Homo sapiens: one gene and its partners. The protein of the gene in region 3 interacts with the protein of the main gene of each other region in a pairwise test. Each region holds a gene or a part of one and is shown on either strand. Other genes may lie near its edges.

Region 1 (3,203 bases), on a different chromosome or scaffold from region 3:
GGAGGCTGAGGCAGGAGAATGGTGGGAACCCGGGAGGCGGAGCTTGCAGTGAGCCGAGATCACGCCACTGCACTCCAGCCTCCGCGACAGAGCGAGACTCTGTCTCAAAAAAAATAAAAAAAAATAAAAAATAAAAAGTTAAGTATAGTTGGTTCCCTACTTATAATGAATCAACTTATGATCTTTCAACTTTATAGTGGATTTATGGGGATATTAAATGCATTTTTGACTTATGATATTTTCATCTTATGATAGGTTTGAGACAGAGCGAGACCGTCTCAAAAAAAAACAGCAACAAAAAATCACGCCTCGTGAAGAAGAAGTCAAATGAAGTTTAATAAAATCTAAAAAAAAAAAACCCCTGCTTTCCTAAACTACTCTGTACTTTCCCAGGGTAATTAATAACCAGCAGATACATTTCTGCTGGTAATTAATTATAAAACAGGTAAATAGGCCGGGCATGGTGGCTCATGCCTGTAATCCCAGCACTTTGGGAGGCTGAGGCGGGCAGATCATGAGGTCAGGAGATCGAGACCATCCTGGCTAACATGGTGAAACCCCGTCTGTACTAAAAATATAAAAAAAAAAAAATAGCCGGGCGTGGTGGCGGGTGCCTGTAGTCTCAGCTACTCAGGAGGCTGAGGCAGGAGAATGGCGTGAACCTGGGAGGCGGAGGTTGCAGTGAGCTGGGATCATGCTACTGCACTCCAGCCTGGGCGACAGAGCGAGACTCCGTCTCAAAAAAAAAAACAAAAAAAAAAACCCCAAAAAACAGGTAAATAAGGTACTCAGAATCTGACTGGCTGATAAGATATAAAAATAGCTACTACTGTAATTAAAAAATCTACTTTTAGGCCAGGCACGGTGGCTCACGTCTGTAATCCCAGCACTTTGGGAGGCCGAGGCGGGCGGATCACGAGGTCAGGAGATCGAGACCATCCTGGCTAACATGGTGAAACCCCGTCTCTACTAAAAATACGAAAAATTAGCTGGGCGTGGTGGCGGGTGCCTGTAGTCCCAGCTACTCGGAAGGCTGAGGCAGGAGAAAGATGGGAACCTGGGAGGTGGAGCTTGCAGTGAGCCGAGATCTTGCCACTGCACTCCAGCCTGGGCAACAGAGCGAGACTCCATATCAAAAAAAAAAAAAAAAAATCTACTTTTAAAACTATTAAAACTTTAAAAAATTCTATTACAATTTTTTTTTTTTTTTGAGGTGGAGTCTCGCCCTGTCACCCAGGGTGGAGTGCAGAGGCGTGATCTCGGCTCACTGCAACCTCCGGCACCCAGATTCAAGTGATCTCCTGCCTCAGCCTCCCGAGTAGCTGGGACTACAAGCGTGTGCCGCCATGCCCAGCTGATTTTTTGTATTTTTAGTAGAGATGGGGTTTCACTGTGTTAGCCAAGATGGTCTCGATTTCCTGACCTCGTGATCCACCCGACTTGGCTTCCCAAAGTGCTGGGATTACAGGTGTGAGCCACTGCGCCCAGCCTCTTACAAAATCTATGTTGCCCAAGCTAGTCTCAAACTCTTGGACTCAAGCAATCCTCCCGCCTCAGCTTCCCAAGTAGCTAGGATTATAGGAAAGTGTCACCACACCTGGCTGTTAAAAAAACTATTAAAAACTTTAAAAAGGGGCTGGGCACGGTGGCTCATGCCTGTAATCCCAGCACTTTGGGAGGTTGAGGCGGGTGGATCACCCGAGGTTAGGAGTTCGAGACCAGCTTGACCAATATGGTGAAACCCTGTCTCTACTAAAAATACAAAAAAAAAATTAACCGGTGTGGTGGTGTATGCCTGTAATCCCAGCTACTTGGGAGGCTGAGACAGGAGAGTTGCTTGAACCTGGGAGGCGGAGCTGGCAGTGAGCTGAGATCACGCCACTGCACTCCAGCCTGGGTGACAGGGCGAGACTCTGTCTCAAAAAAAAAAAAAAAAACTTAAAAAGTAGAGACAGGCATGGTGGCACATGCCTGTAGTCTCACCTACTTAGGAGGCTGAGCTAGGAAGATCACTTGAGCCCAGGAGTTGGAGTCCAGCCTGGGCAACATGGCAAGACCCTGTTTTTTAAAAAAATAAAATAAACAAAACCCAAAACAAAAACAAAAAACCTTAAAGTCAATAACCTCAATTTTTAACAAATTCAATATGGCTTTCATAAAGGAACTGTTGAAAGAGATGATCCAATATTACACAATTATCTGTGGGACTAACTCTTTTTTTTTTGAAATAGAGTCTTGGTCTGCTACCCAGGCTGGAATGCAGTGACATGATCTTGGCTCATTGTAACCTCCACCTCCTGGGTTCAAGCAATTCTCCTATCTCAGCTTCTTGAGTAGCTGGGATTACAGGTGTGTGCCATTACGCCCAGCTAACTCTTTAGAAGGTACTATTACTATAACATTTGAGAGACTAACATCTTTCCCACAGACAATGGGAGGTAGGAAGTTATTGACAGTGTTTTTGGAAAAAGCACAAACAAATTGTTCTTGGAACAGGAACCAAAGCTATTAATATGGTAAGCCATTCTCCAAAAAACTGTAACCAAGTAGTATCCTCGAAAACAGAATTATTAATAGGACTTTGCCAGATTCTGTTAAAGGTGATCTAAACAAAATACAGAGATACCGGAAGTACGGTAGTCAGGAATGGGAGCAAATTAACATAGATTCGGTATATATATTAAATGCCAGTCTCCTTCCATGTCATCACATTTTATCTTCATTACACCTCTGTAAGACAGAATTAATTTCTGTGTTTAGAGATGAAAGACTAAGGCTCAGAGAGATAAAGTATATTAGTGCCCAAGATGACACAGGTAGTCAGGGTGAATCAGGAATTTAAATCTGGTTTAATCTAAAGTTTTATTTTTATTTTTAGTTTTTTATTCTTTCTACTCTATCATACTGTCTTTTTCATATGAAAAAGGTCAGGAACCTGGAAACCTAGATACCCTTGGATACTCTTTTACTCTATTTCTCAACCGAGCTCTCTGCCCACTGAATGGCACCAGGAGTCCCACCTGCCTGGAATGCCTGTTTCTAGACACACTTCATAATTTCCTGAGACCTGCTCACTCACGTTAAGACGCTTGCTGGCATCATCTGGGACTCGGGTGCTGCCTCTATCAAGGACTGCCAGGTATTTGTGGAGTTAGGGATCACAAAGCCAAACTCGAAGAACCATTCTGAAGGAAGAAGGAAAA
Region 2 (4,528 bases), on a different chromosome or scaffold from region 3:
ACTTGACTATGAAGTACTGTATTCACTATCTTTTCTTTTTCAGTTTCTGAGCAAAAGATTATCGAAAGCCAGGCATAGTACCTGCAAGGACAGTGGCCATGCAGGAGCTAGAGACATTGTTTCCATTCAAGAGCTGTATCCTTTTCTGCTGAAGGTCTTTGCACCAAGCTACATGTTGTATTTTATAATTTGTCTGTAGTCGCATGTGTAATTTAAAAACAAATAATAAGGCCGGGCACGGTGGCTCAGGCCTGTAATCCCAGCACTTTTGGAGGCCGAGGCAAGCAGATCACTTGAGCCCAGGAATTTGTGACCAACCTGGGCAACATGGTGAAACCCTGTCTCTATCAAAAGTACAAATTTTTTTTTTTTTTTGAGTTGGAGTTTCGCTCTTTTTGCCCAGGCTGAAGTGCAATGGTGCAATCTCAGCTCACTGCAACCTCTGCCTCCCAATCTCAAGTGATTCTCCTGCCTCAGCCTCCTGAGTAGCTGGGATTACAGGTGCACACCACCACACCTGGATAATTTTGTATTTTTTTTGGTAGAGACAGGGTTTCACCATGTTGGCCAGCTGGTCTCGAACTCCTGACCTCAGGTGATCCGCCTGCCTAGGCCTCCCAAAGTCCTGGGATTACAGGCGTGAGTCACCGTGCCCGGCCAAAGTACAAATTAAAAAATAATAATAATAAGCTGGGTGTGGTGATGTACGCCTGTAGATCCAGCTAGTTGGTAGGCTGAGGTGAGAAAATCTCTTGAACCTGGGATGTGGAAGTTGCAGTAATCTGAGATCAGGCCACTGCACTCCATCCTGGACGACGAGGAAACCCCATCTCAATAATAATAATAGTAAAAATTGCCTAATATTGAGATTTCTTCTAGCAATCAGCCCTTGCCTTATATGAAAGTTTATTATTATTATTATTATTTTTTTTTTTTGAGATGGAGTCTCGCTGTGTCGCCCATGCTGGAGTGCAGTGGTGTGATCTCAGCTCACTGCAAGCTCCGTCTCCTGGGTTCATGCCATTCTCCTGCCTCAGCCTCCCGAGTAGCTGGGACTACAGGCGCCCGGCTAATTTTTTGTATTTTTTTTAGTAGAGACGGGGTTTCACTGTGTTAGCCAGGATGGTCTCTGTCTCCTGATCTCGTGATCCGCCCATCTCGGCCTCCCAAAGTGCTGGGATTACAGGCATGAGCTACCGTGCCCAGCCATTATTGTTTTTCTTAACCAGTGTTCTTAGAATTGAAGTGGAAGAAGAAGAGGAAATCCTCTTGAACTCTTACACCACACCTTCAAAGGTAAGTAAACAGTGTTTGGACATTGCATTTTACAAGTAACATTTTAAAATAGTTTCACAACATTTGAAGATCTGAGGGAAAAAATCAACCACTCTCATGCATTTCCTACTATATTTCCACTTATACATCTTCCTTTCTGATCATATGTCTAAATGTTTTACATAATGGCAGTCCTTATAAACATATAGTTATCCTGCTTTTCTCAGCACAACATAAAACATTTCTATAAACATAATTTCTCCATAATTGCCCTTTTTGAATAGTTTCATAGTTTTATACTATAATTGAATAATTCAGTTCTGTGTTGGATCCCAGTGTGAAAGGTCAAGTAGGGTAGTGGAAAAGCATTGCCTTCAAAGTCTGAGTCAGAAGACCTAGGTGACCTGGAGTGAGTTGTTTTATCTCTCTGAGACAGTTTCCTTATCCATAATATCAGGATTCATTCATTCAGTTATCCAGCAACAACTATGTGGCCAGGCGCAGTGGCTCATGCCTGTAATCCCAGCACTTTGGGAGGCTGAGGCAGGCGGATCACGAGGTCAGGAGATCGAGACCATCCTGGTTAACATGGTGAAACTCTGTCTCTACCATAAATACAAAAAAAGAAATTAGCCGGGCGTGGTGGTGGGCGCCTGTAGTCCCAGCTACTTGGGAGGCTGAGGCAGGAGAATGGCGGGAACCTGGGAGGCAGAGCTTGCAGTGAGCCGAGATCGCGCTACTGCACTCCAGCCTGGGCGACAGAGCGAGACTCCGTCTCAAAAAAAAAAAAAAAAACAACAACAACAACTATGTACTGCACTAGACATTGAGTAAACAATGGTGAATGAAACAGACATGGATGGGCTCTGCCCTCAAGAAGCTGACAGCCAGTGCACAATATCCCCCATCTTGGAGGGCTTGAAGAGGAAATAAATAGGTAAAGTATCAGGCCCTATGCAATGTATTCAGTAATGGTAACTATTCTTTATACTAACTAAATAAGTTTGTAGACATTCATAAACATGGAGTGAGCCTTAATTATTCAAAGTAAACTACATCATAAGAAAGAGGTAATTTACATTGCCCTATGCAATGTATTCAGTAATAGTAATTATTCTTTTTTGTTGTTGTTGTTGTTGTTTTGAGATGGAGTTTTCCTCTTGTTGCCCAGGCTGGAGTGCAATGGCACGATCTCGGGTCACTGCAACCTCCGCCTCCCGGGTTCAAGCAATTCTGCCTCAGCCTCCTGAGTAGCTGGGATTACAGGCATGCGCCACTACGGCCAGCTAATTTTTGTATTTTTAGTAGAGACGGGGTTTCACCATGTCAGCCAGGCTGGTCTCGTACTCCTCACCTGCGGTGATCCACCTGCCTCGGCCTCCAAAGTGCTGGGATTACAGATGTGAGCCACCGTGCCCAGCCCAGTAATTATTCTTTATACTAACTAAATAAATTTGTAGAAATTCATAAACATGGAGGGAGCCTTAATTATTCAAAGTAAATTACATCATAAGAAAGAAGGTAAGGGCTGGGTGCAGTGGCTCATGCCTGTAATCCCAGCACTCCGGGAGACCAAGGCAGGAGGATCAGTGACCAGAGATCATGCCGCTGCTCTACAGCCTGGATGACAAAGTGAGACCCTGTCTCAGGAAGAAAGAAGGTAAATAGTTTAGATATGCCTGTGGAGAGTAAGAGGGCCAAAAATGTGCCCCATGAAGTTGCTAACACAAAACCAGGTGCATATAATATTAAAAGAAATAATTAGGTGTTTGTTAGAGTTTCTTAAAATTGGAGAGACTATAACTCATTTGATTTTCCTCCTAAAGTGGTTTTCTGAGTCCATATCCCAGTGAAGGACACCTCCGTTCTTCCATTGACTCAGGCCAAGAACCTTGGAGACCTCCTTAAATCCTTTTTCTCTCACACCCCACATCCAACTTAGCTACCAGTCCTGTCATCCCTCTCCAGGATCTGGCCACCTCTCACCATTTCCACTGCTACCACCAGGTCCACAGCATCATTGTCTCCTGAATGATTGGGACAGCCTCCTAACTAGTCCATTGGCTTCTTTCTGCCATATCCACCTCTAACCACCTCTCCACCCAGCAGCCAGAGTGCTCCTTTCCAGCAAAAGGTCAGGTTTTCTTGCTCACATCTCTCCCACTGGCTTTTCGTCTTTCCTCCTGATATGCAAAGTTTGAACCAGCATATGTGAAGTTCTGTAGGAGCTGGCCCCCTCCTCCTTCTGTCCTCTTTCCCTGCTCCCCTTTGCTCTCTGCTTCTGCCGTGCCAAATATGGGTTCATTTCCTATGTCTCCTTGTCAGGGAACAAGCCTGCCTAAAAGAACAAAGCCCTTCTTCTGTTTTATTTTCTTGCTTTATTTTTCTCCTTATTATTCTCTTGCTTTATTACCACCAAACATGTTATATACTTACTTTTTTGTTTTAGTCGGCCTTCCCTCCATTAGATGGAAGCTCCTTGAGAATAGAGACTTTGTTTTTACTTGCTGCTGTTTTCCCAGCACCCTGGCATGTTAATAGTTGTTGAAAGATCTCTGAATAAGGGAGTGTGGTTGGCTCTCTCAATTGCAATACCAATGGGACCACCACGGTTTTATCTGGTTAACAGCTTCACAGATCCAGAATTTTATGTAATTTGTCTGTGTATCCAGAATTGATCATATTCCGGAGTCTGACTCATGGTAACCCAGCTGTCAGTAGACTGATGCGTAAGCCAGGTGCAAATTTGTTTACTTTACTATTGAAGTAGATACCCTTCCAATGACTGAAATCCCATATTTAGGATACCCCATTCCTGCTATGGAAATACTTAGGAGACTAAATTGTGAATCAAAGTTTGTGACTGTGAGGCCGAGTGCAGTGGCTCACACCTGTAATCCCAGCACTTCGGGAGGCTGAGGCAGGTGGATCACTTGAGGTCAGGAGTTCGAGACCAGCGAAACTCCATCTCTACTCAAAAAATTAGCTGGGCATGGTGGTGGTGCCTATAATCCCAGCCACTCAGGAGGCTGAGGCAGGAGAATCGCTTGAACCCGGGAGGTGGAAGTTGCAGTGAGCCAAGATTACACCACTGCCCTCCAGGCTGGATGACAGAACCAGACTCCGTCTGAAAAAAAAAAAAAAAAAAAAGTTTGTGACTGTGAATTCCACGCTAAATGAGTTGGAGTGAAATGTTGAGCAAACAATATGTCCAGGCTAGAGATACGTAAAATGCTTAGAACAGTACTTATCA
Region 3 (5,556 bases):
AAAAAGAATGGGTGATAAGTTGATATTTGTTGAAGCTGTTGATAGGTACCTATGATCTCACTATACTGTTTTCTCTACTTGTTATAATTTCCATAATAAAACATTTTTAAACATTTAAAATCAAAAGATTTTAACCTTTTTTAAAAAATAGAACCTTTTCTCCAACCAAAATGTTGCAACAGGCTGATATATAAATGAAATAAAGGTGAATCTACTCTTATTAAAGGGAAGCCAGACCCCCATCCTATAGCTAGGATGGCAGCACCCCTGTCAATATTTGGTCCTCAGAGTCTCAGGGAGAATGTGGATGACTTCAGCCACTTGCACGGCCCTGGATCTTGCAGCAGAGGAGGGTGTTTGGGAGGGGATGGCAAGGCTAGATAAGGACTCTTAGCAAGGTATGGTGGCTCATGCCTGTAATCCTAGCACTTTGGGAGGCTGAGGCAGGCGGATCATGAGGTCAGGAGTTCGAGACCAGCCTGGCCAATATGGTGAAACCCCGTCTCTACTAAAAATACAAAAATTAGCTGGGCCTGGTGGCGTGTACCTGTAGTCCCAGCTGCTCAAGAGGCTGAGGCAGGAGAATTGCTTGAAACCGGGAGGCGGAGGTTGCAGTAAGCCAAGATTGCACCACTGCACTCCAGCCTGGGCAACAAAGCAAGACTCCGTCTCAAAAAAAAAAAAAAAAAGACTCTGGACAACATAGTTCCCAGCCCAATTAGAGATTAGTGAAGTGAAGAGGGCAGTGAGGAGGATGTCAAAAGTTCCAGACTCAGGACAATACACAGAATGTGTGCTTTCCTATCTTCCTGACCATCTGTAGAATCAAGTATTTTGCACTCTGGGCAGCAAAAGACTAACTGGCCACCTGCTGGTTTGTCATTATTTGTCTTCTCACCTACTGTACCTAGCCAACTTTTCAGGTTCTCCCCGGAGACACTCTTTAGGTGTCATTTGTGAACTGGAGAAGTCCTCATTAGAACTATTTTTTTGTCCAGTGGCTGTAGCCTTGAAGGCTGGTGTGGCTTGGTCAGTCAGTTCTCTGGATCCTGTGAAGGGACCTGTCCAGCACAGGGAAACAGAGGGAGAAGACCCATCTCAGACAGCACCTGCTCTCCCCTTAACCCAGACTTAAACTCACAGGAACCTAGGAAGACCTTGCCAAGCAAGTACACAGGAAGGGCCTGAGGGGAAGGGCTACTAGTATGGGAGTTAGGAGAAGGAAGTCCTGTGAGTTTAAAGAAATCATGATGGGCTTTCTGGAGGAGGCTGGACCACACAGGACTTTGAGGACAGACACCAAGTTGGGTGTACATGGAACCCAGATCCTTGGTTCTTCTACCTAGCCCAGTGTTTTTGTCCCACGGTAGATGGGTCTGCCCCTCTCTCCCTGAATGCCCTGCCTGCTCTGAGGGGTGAATGCTCACAGAAGCCCAGAGGGCAGGTGGGAAGGCTAGCTTCAGGACTGAGAGCAGCCCCCTGTCTTCACTCCCTAACAACTCTCTGTCTTACTGCTTTCTCCCCACAGGACCCAGCCGCCGCCTCCATCTCTGACGGAGACTGTGACGCCCGGGAGGGTGAGTCAGTAGCCATGAATTACAAACCATCCCCGCTCCAAGTGAAGCTGGGTGAGTGTGTCTGGGGGGTGAGGGAGATGTGGGGAGTAGGCAAGATACTCTGGGCTGGGTCTACAATGAGGTGCCACAAATAAACCAGCTCAGCCTAGATGATTCCAAGACTCAAGCCTTCAAGTCATTGGCACTGCGAGGCACCTTGTCTCCTGCAGGCAAAGAGGGCAGTTACAGTTCTCTGCAGGAGCCTGAAACTCTAAGAGGCATCTCTGAAGCCAAGAACGTTCCAGGTATTCTGGGGCATAGCTGCAGGGGGAAAAGCATGGAACCCCAGAGAGAGGACTTGGAAGTCCCATCAAACACTGGATCAGGCTGAGAGGAAGCTGCCTTAGAAGTGGGATGTTACTTGTTATGTCTAAGGGATAGAAAGGAAAGAGAGTTCCAACCCTAGAAGCCGAGCCCCTCTCCCGATTACAATCTCAGCCCATCTAGAGATCTCTGGGCCCAGTTGGCACCTATCTGGGGGAGTTTTCCCTTCGTTTCTTAGAAAACCCAAATATCTCCCTTCCTTTCTGGGTCACATTTCCCTTGTGGCTTTGTCTCATGTCCATTCCAAAGTCAGTTTACTGTGCAGCCTGATCCTGTGAAGTCCCCTCGCTTCTGGCCACTGTCCACAGCTCCTACCACTATTGCCCTCCCTTCACCTCATGGGCTGTCCCTCTCCCTTCAGGGACCAAAGTTTCACTGTCTCATGGCTGCTGTATATAACACACTTTTATGAAAACTTTGGTTTCTTGAAGAGAAATTACAAAACAGGACATACAGGAAAGAATTTACAATTAAATATAGGTCATTACTATCCTTCCAAGTTCCTCTGCCATCAAGGCCACCCTCCTGTCCATCCTCCTCCTCAGGCTCCAGCTGCCCAACAATTACTGATGCCTCCTCAGTCCTAAGGGCCCTTTGCCTACAACTTTCTCCTTCCTTTCCACAGAGGCCTGTATTTTATTATTCAACTACTATTTTTTTTTCTTACCTTGCTTGCTTCTGTCCTTCCAGACCACATCCAGGGAGCCCCTCGAGCTGTTTTTCTAAACAAGAATAGTCCTCTCCTTGGAATTTGTTTCTATTCCTAGGACATCAGATTAAAACTGCAGCCAATTTTATTTATCAGGGGTGTTGGTTGTTGTTGTTGTTGTTGTTGTTGTTGTTTTGAGACAGAGTCTCTCTCTGTTGTCCAGGCTGGAGTGCAGTGGCATGATCTTGGCTCACTGCAACCTCCGCTTCCCTGGTTCAAGCGATTCTCCTGCCTCAGCCTCTCAAGTAGCTGGGATTATAGGCGCGCATCACCACGCCCAGCTAATTTTTGTATTTTTAGTAAAGATAGGCTTTCGCCATGTTGGCCAGGCTGGTCTGGAACTCCTGGTCTCAAGTGATCCGCCCACCTCGGCCTCCCAGAGTGCTGGGATTACAGGCATGAGCCACCATACCCAGCCTATTATTGTTTAATATCACAATACAAATATTTTAACAAGCATAACTTCTTTACTCTCCCCCATCACATTCTCCTCCTAAGAGGTAACCATTCCAAGCCTTTTCAGTTTTTGTAGTTTTACTTTGTATTTTAACATAAGTGGTATCATATTGTGCACATTTTCTGAAACTTGGCCTTCCCTCTTCCACCACCTAAATCTTGGAGCTCCTTCCAATGTCATCATATTGTGACTTCATTCTTTTAAATGGTTGTATAGTAGTCTTTAGTTTGGTTTTGCCAGTTTATTGTTTGCTTTTTTCCCACTATTTCAAACAATTTCAGCATGCTTTTAAAATAACATCTTTTTTTCTCCCCATTACATTACCATCAAAGCTCCTCATGAAAATTCACAGCATTGTCCCAGTTGCACCTAGTACCACCAGGAACTTTAAGGCAAATTGCACCCCCTAGAGGCCTGGAGTGGTAATGGCAGCTGCCACCTGCTGGAAAGAAGCTGGGAAAAAGCTGGAATCAGCTGAGCACTGGCAAAGAAAGAGGGTCAAAGAGTAGAAGACAGAGATTCAGAGACATGAGGTCAGGGGAAATTTCCAAGTGAGTCACAGTAGCTGTAAAGGTCCTTCCCATCCTTACCCTCTGGAGCATTTGGCTATTTTATGAGTCATTTTCCCTAGTGTCCCTCTCCACCTAACAGTTCCTTTTCCTAGATCTGGCCTTTACTTGAGATGAGTAGGGAAGAGTAGATGGGACTCCTCCAAGACCCAGGAAGCTACTTCTGGTAACAGTTGTCACATACCAGGCAGTGGACTGGGTCACCTGATGGCCAGCTCCATGAAGCTGGTAGGCTTTGGAACCTTGGAGAACTCAGACCTTGGCAAAGGAGTCAGGAGCACCACTCAGGCAGCGTAGCCAAATGGGCTCCCCCAGCCTTCTGCCCCTTACTTTGTAGCCCCATCCTGCACCTCCCACACCATAACCTTCAGTGGCTTCTTCTTCCTTCTGCGTTAATCCCAAACTCCTCTGTCTGGCATTCAAGTCCTTCATGTTCTGAGTTTGTAACCAGAGAGGGTCTTCGGCCCCTTAGCACAGGACCAGACTTATAATTAGTGACATGGATATTTGTTGAATAAGTGGCTGAATAAATGAATTTTACTTCTCTAACCTGACCTCTCTCTTCACCCCTCTATCCAGAGCCACACTTATGCTCACTTTTAAATGCATTTTTGCACACACTATCCCTCCTTCCTAGAATGTCCACCTCTCTCCAGGTCATGGTGTCACCTAAAGGAAGCCCTCTCTGACTGCGCCATCCTTCTGTGATTGTCTCTCCCCCGCCAGCCTTTCCCTGGCATCAAGTACACACTAACTACCCTAACATGGGAGTTGTGGTTCCTGAAAAACAGGGGGCAGCCTCCTCTTTTTGCCCCCCACTGTCTGCCTCAGGTTGTGCAGGGCCAGGTACTATCTCCACCAAGCAGCAGGGGCCTGGAGTTGGGATCCCTGCCTCAGTCCTTCTAGGAGCAAGTGGTTTCACAGTGGAGGCCCAGCCCAGGCTGCCCTGAGTAGTAAGACAGGGTGGCCTCAGGGGCAGGACACAGCTTCCTTCCCATGTTCTCCTGCAGAGAAGCAGCGGGAGCTGGCCCGGAAGGGCTCCCTGAAGAATGGCAGCATGGGTAGCCCTGTCAACCAGCAACCCAAGAAGAACAATGTCATGGCCCGAACAAGGTAGAGGCCCTCCCTACCCCACCTGGACCCTGCCAGCCAGGACCTATTTCTGCTGGTCCTGAGCCTCCCCCTCTTCCCTCCCTCCTCAGGCCCAGCTCCTCTCTGAGAGGAGACAGCCTTAACAGGATCCAAGGTGGGGAGGGAGGGAAGAAAGTGGTGGGACGGGGCCCAACCCAGTCCCTTGCCAGGTTTCTATGCTCCACTTTGCCACTCTAACTCCCGAAATTCTTCACCTAGGCTGGTCGTCCCCAATAAAGGCTACTCCTCACTTGACCAGAGCCCTGATGAGAAGCCACTGGTAGCCCTTGACACGGACAGGTGTGTATGGGGGCTTGGGGGTAGCTGGGCAGCCCAAAGGAACCTGTATAGCACAAGTGGGCTGTACAGGCCACACCTGCTATATTGTCAGAATTGGGATATTCTTCAGCCAGAATCTCTCCAAGGGTGAATTCTCCAGGGATGGGAATTTTTTTACACCAGGGACTGGGGGTTGAAGAGAGGTGGCAGAGAGAGGAAAGGGGGGCCTGCGTTGTCTGCTGTCATCCTGGGACAACTGATCCAATGGTTGTCCCTAATTGGCCTGTGATGTTGTCTCTGGACAGCAGAATATGATGCTTAATGCCCCATCCCCTCAGGAAGGAGCCCTACTCCCTGGAAAACACCTGGCTAGACTTGGACTTTGGGAATATCCTACAAGTCAGGGTGATTTGAGTCTACAAAAAAAAAAAAAAAGATGAGAAGGGGGTGAAAGGAGTAACTGCTATATTT
Region 4 (4,528 bases), on a different chromosome or scaffold from region 3:
TACACATAAGGAAGCTGGAGTCTCTGTTCAAATCCAGGCTTTGCCATTTTCTCCTTGGATGACCTGGCAGCTTACTTAGCCTTTCTGGGCCTTGATCCCTTATCTTCCTGGGGCCATCACGAAGATTAAATGAGATACTGCACATGAAGTTCTTAGCCCACTGGTAGACACATAGACTCAACTCAGTACAGATGCTGTTGCTGCCTGGCTGAAAACAGACTGGGGATTCCACACATCCTGCTGTCCGGAGTCTCTGCGTGGGAGAGGACAGGCCTTTTTCCTCCCATCTCACTTCCTCTCCTCCTCCAGCCACCAGAATACGACAGCCTGACACTCCATGTCCCCACCGTATATGGGAAAGGAGGTTTCCCATTGGCCGCAGGCAGAGACAAGCCACAGTGAGATGAGCGCTTTGGCTGCTGCCATGGCAACCAGCAATGACCAGACTTCAATTAGGAAGGAGGAATAAAAGGCATCCAATTAGGAGAAGAAAATAGGATTGAGCCTCTTCTCGCTTAGGAATGCCCAGGGCCAAGGGAATGCTTCGCTGGAGGAGCCCAGGCTTGCCAACCCCTTCAAGTCACCACCCCCATCTCTGGGCTCCAGGGAGCCCTGTGCTGGCAAAGAGACAACACAGAGGCGCTGACGTGTGTGGACTTCAGAGGGAGACCTGCTGGGGTTCAAATACGGCTTCTGCCACTTTCCTAACTGTGACAGGAAAGGTCTTTCACCTCTTTGTGCCTCAGTTTCTCCACTGGAATACGCTACCTATTTTGCAAGGTTGGAGTGAGGATCAATAGAGATAATGGGCTGGGGTGGTGGCTCACACCTGTAATCCCAGAACTTTGGGAGGTGGAGACAGGCGGATCACTTGAGGTCAGGAGTTCAAGATCAGCCTGGCCAACATGGCAAAACCCCGCCTCTACTAAAAATACAAAAATTAGCCGGGTGTGGTGGTGGGCGCTTGTAGTCCCAGCTACTCTGGAGTCTAAGGCAGGAGAATTGCTTGAATCTAGGAGGTGAAGGTTTCAGTGAGCCAAGATCACGCCACTGCACTCCAGAGACTGAGAGCAGGACTCAGTCTAAAATAAAAAAAACAGATAATGCATGTAAAGAGCTTAACTCAGTGCCTGCCATATAAACTGCAACCTACTGGTATTAACTACTGCATTATTGTCAGTAACAACATCAATAGCAGTGATGCTGTGTTGTACCCAGCTAAGAAGGAGAGATGGGAACCGATATCCAGTGAGCACAAACTGCAAACACTTTGCTGCTCTACATTCTTGCTACCCAAAGTGTGATCCAGGAACCAGCAGCATTGGCCTCACCTGGGAGCTTATTAGAAATGCAGAATCTCAGGTTCTGCTCCAGACTTGCTGAATCAGAATCTGCATTTAGCCAGAGCTCCAGGTAACTTGTGTGCATGGCACAGTTTGAAGCGCTGCTTCAGCGCCTTAGTTAGTCTTCAGAGAACCACCTCCAGGAAGGCAGTATGAGCCAGATTTTACAGATAAGGGAACTGAGACTAAGAATTGAAGACTGTGAGGAGACACAGCTGGAAGGGCAAGGCTGGTGACAGCCCCAGGCCACAATCCAAGGATGTGGCCCCACAATGCCATGATAGAGAAGGGTTTTATAGCGCATGCAGATCAAGGCAAGGATGGAGAGCAAAGAGATTCCCTTCTCTGGGCAAAGGTCTGTGATTTACAGCAGGAGAAAGGGGCGAGCCCTCCAAGAAGGCAGTGAGAGGCTCTACATTCCAGCTTCCAGAAATGGAGGCAGGAGAGGCTCGGAGAGGTGTATACATCTTGTTTTTCCCCTTTGCACATACCCCACATTTTCCTCCATCACTTCAACCCATCCATTTCCAACACGGCCCTCCTCACAGTTTGTTTACATCTTAGCCATCAATGCTGGCACCTTGTCTGTTTGGTTCCCCATTGAATCCCCAGCCCCAGACACAGGGGTGGGGACACAACAAGCTCCCAGTACAGATCTGAGCATGAGTGGAGCGACCTTCTAGGTATAATGCCCACACTTGGGCTCCTTTGTGCCCACAGTTGAGTTATCATTAAAATATTCTAACACTAAATGGCATCAGGGTTAACAAAGCCCTTTACTTCTTCTAATTCACTTGTACATCACAAGCCCGAGTTAGCTATTATATAAATCCCCCTTCTACAGATGGGAAAGCTGAGTATCTGTCTGCACTTGGGTCTGCCTGTCTCTTAGGACAAAATGTACTTGGGCTACTTCATCCCCAGTCCTGACTCCTGCCAATGCAGTGAGAGATGGAAGCCGGAGAAGGTCAGTTTCAGGGAGGAGGCTGGCAATGGCCCCACTAAACGAGAACCCACTGTGGATCAGACACTTGAATAGGTGTTTTACGGGTGCTATCTCAATCCTTATAAAGATTCTTCCAGTGGGCATGATGGAGGCATTATCATTTGCATTTTAGGGATAAGAAAAATGAGGATCAGAGATGTTAAGTACCTTGCCCAAGGTCATCCAGCTATACAGCAAGTGGTAAAGGTGGGATGTGAATGCCTATGTGTTTGCTTTCATTACTCTGTGCTTTTTTTTTTTTTTTTTTTGACACAGGGTTCTGCTGTTGCCCAGGCCAGAATGCTGCGGCATGATCAGCTCATTGCAGCTCAAGGGATCCTCCCATCTCAACCTCCAGAGTAGCTAGGACTACAAGCATGCACCACTATGCCTGGCTAATTTTATTTTTTGTAGAGATGGGGTCTTGCTGTGTTGCCCAGGCTGCTTTCGAACTCCTGCACTTGAGTGATCCTCTGGCCTTGGCCTCCCAAAGGGTTGGGATTACAGATATAAGCCACCACACAGCCATAGTCTGTGCTTCTTATCTAATCTCTCATGCTGTATAGTAAAGCTGCAGTATGTGGCTTTTTCCAGGTTCTGGCAGTTTTAAAAGGCACTTTCAGGTCCATTACTCTTCCTCTTGTGAAAGAGCTCCTTCCCTCCCACCCTAAGTCTGAGAACAACATTCACCTGTGGAAGCCTCGCTGCCTAGAATCCAAGATGAGCCTGATTGATAGCACAACCTGCGTCTCCTTCGAACCTTCTTCCTGAAGCTCAGGGTAGACCAATCCCCATAAACACAGAAGGCCGGTCAGCCAGCCAGCCAGCCAGCCAGCCAGCCAGCCAGCCAGCCAGCCAGACACGGCCCTTACCAGGCACTCTTCCAGATGGCTCCTGTCGGTGGTACAGACATCGACTCTTAAGGTCTTCTGGTGAAGGGCTGGATAGGACATGGATACCCAGAACACCTCATTGAACACTAGAGTGTCTGAGGCGTCCAGAGGCCGGGTCCGGAACAGGCAGGTTGTGCTTTCAGAGCAAGGAAGGACAGCCACGCGGATATTCCTAGAGGGAGACAGAACCGCAGGAAATCTTGGGTCAGCCCATGTCTGGGGCTAAAATGTTGGACTAAACAGCTGCTGAAATCCCTAAGCAAACAACAGTGGATGAGAGTTTGTAGAAGTGAGGAATCTGGGGAATCAGGCCCCTATACACTGGAAGGAACTTTGACAAATCGAACAAAATTCCAGATGCATTTGTCCTTTGGTCCAGACCCTTCACTTCTAGGCATTATCCCACAGATGCCCCTGCATGAGTACCAGTGAGCTATGGAGGAGGCTATTCAGCCTGGCACTGTCTGTGTGGGCAGAAGACTGAAATTGACCCAAGCATCCCATCTTGTCTTCCTTCCGTTTTGTCCGCCTTCCTGCCCTTTCTTCTTCCCACATGTGCCACCCTCACAGGCTGGCTGAGTGTAGACCACAGACACATAAGCTTCTGTTGCCACCCTCCAGGCCTTACGATCAGAGAAAACTTGGAGGCAGATGAGTGCAATAAAGGATAAACCCATCTACCATGGGAGGAGCCCACAGGCAGACAGAGCAGGTGTTTGCATCCTACCAGCATCAAGGTAACACGCAGTCACACCCCTCCAAGAGAAGCAGTGACTGGTGTTGACTCTTGGAAACAGAAGACCTATCTCTCTCTGCAAGAAACACTTGAGCTTAGGAGAAGATAAAACAGACTGTGACCATTCTTCTCCATGAGGCTCAAAGTCCAGGAGGGTAGGGCCCAGGAAGGATCTGCTCACCACCCCATTCCTAGAGCTGGCATGCAGCAGGTGCTCAGCACGTAATGGGGCAGGAATTCACACAGTCATCTAGAGAGTGCTTGTCTTTACAGTTGGTGTGCTTGCCGTTGTGCCTGTATTCACATGCACAGCACCGACATTCAGCATCACAGTCATATGCAGTACAAACCCACAGTGCCTTGACAAGGCCCATAACTGGATCAGGACAGGGCAGAAAAGTGACCCCCAGGGGTAACTCCAGAGGGTTAGGGTATGAAATACACCTGTCCAGCTACATACTCACACTTTCTGGTCTTGTTGCTGCAACAGAGCAGAAAGGTTACTCAGCTGGATGATTAATATTGCAAATTGCTTATTCTTCTCATCATACCTGAAATGAAAAGGGGCATA

Evidence for each region.
Region 1: the proteins of FAM219A (region 3) and PDE6D interact in a two-hybrid assay, tested with the Homo sapiens proteins (one large-scale study listed by BioGRID and IntAct).
Region 2: the proteins of FAM219A (region 3) and POLA2 interact in a two-hybrid assay, tested with the Homo sapiens proteins (one large-scale study listed by BioGRID and IntAct).
Region 4: the proteins of FAM219A (region 3) and WWC1 interact in a two-hybrid assay, tested with the Homo sapiens proteins (one large-scale study listed by IntAct).

Annotation. Positions count from the first base shown.
Region 1 is NC_000002.12:231,734,108-231,737,310, forward strand, and holds part of PDE6D (retinal rod rhodopsin-sensitive cGMP 3',5'-cyclic phosphodiesterase subunit delta), read right to left. Parts: intron 3,186-3,203; coding exon 3,080-3,185; intron 1-3,079. UniProt on the Homo sapiens protein: Promotes the release of prenylated target proteins from cellular membranes. Modulates the activity of prenylated or palmitoylated Ras family members by regulating their subcellular location.
Region 2 is NC_000011.10:65,267,434-65,271,961, forward strand, and holds part of POLA2 (DNA polymerase alpha subunit B), read left to right. Parts: intron 1-43; coding exon 44-135; intron 136-1,238; coding exon 1,239-1,296; intron 1,297-4,528. UniProt on the Homo sapiens protein: Accessory subunit of the DNA polymerase alpha complex (also known as the alpha DNA polymerase-primase complex) which plays an essential role in the initiation of DNA synthesis.
Region 3 is NC_000009.12:34,401,937-34,407,492, reverse strand, and holds part of FAM219A (protein FAM219A), read left to right. Parts: intron 1-1,528; coding exon 1,529-1,628; intron 1,629-4,685; coding exon 4,686-4,788; intron 4,789-5,025; coding exon 5,026-5,106; intron 5,107-5,556.
Region 4 is NC_000005.10:168,430,117-168,434,644, reverse strand, and holds part of WWC1 (protein KIBRA), read right to left. Parts: intron 4,509-4,528; coding exon 4,422-4,508; intron 3,394-4,421; coding exon 3,201-3,393; intron 1-3,200. UniProt on the Homo sapiens protein: Regulator of the Hippo signaling pathway, also known as the Salvador-Warts-Hippo (SWH) pathway.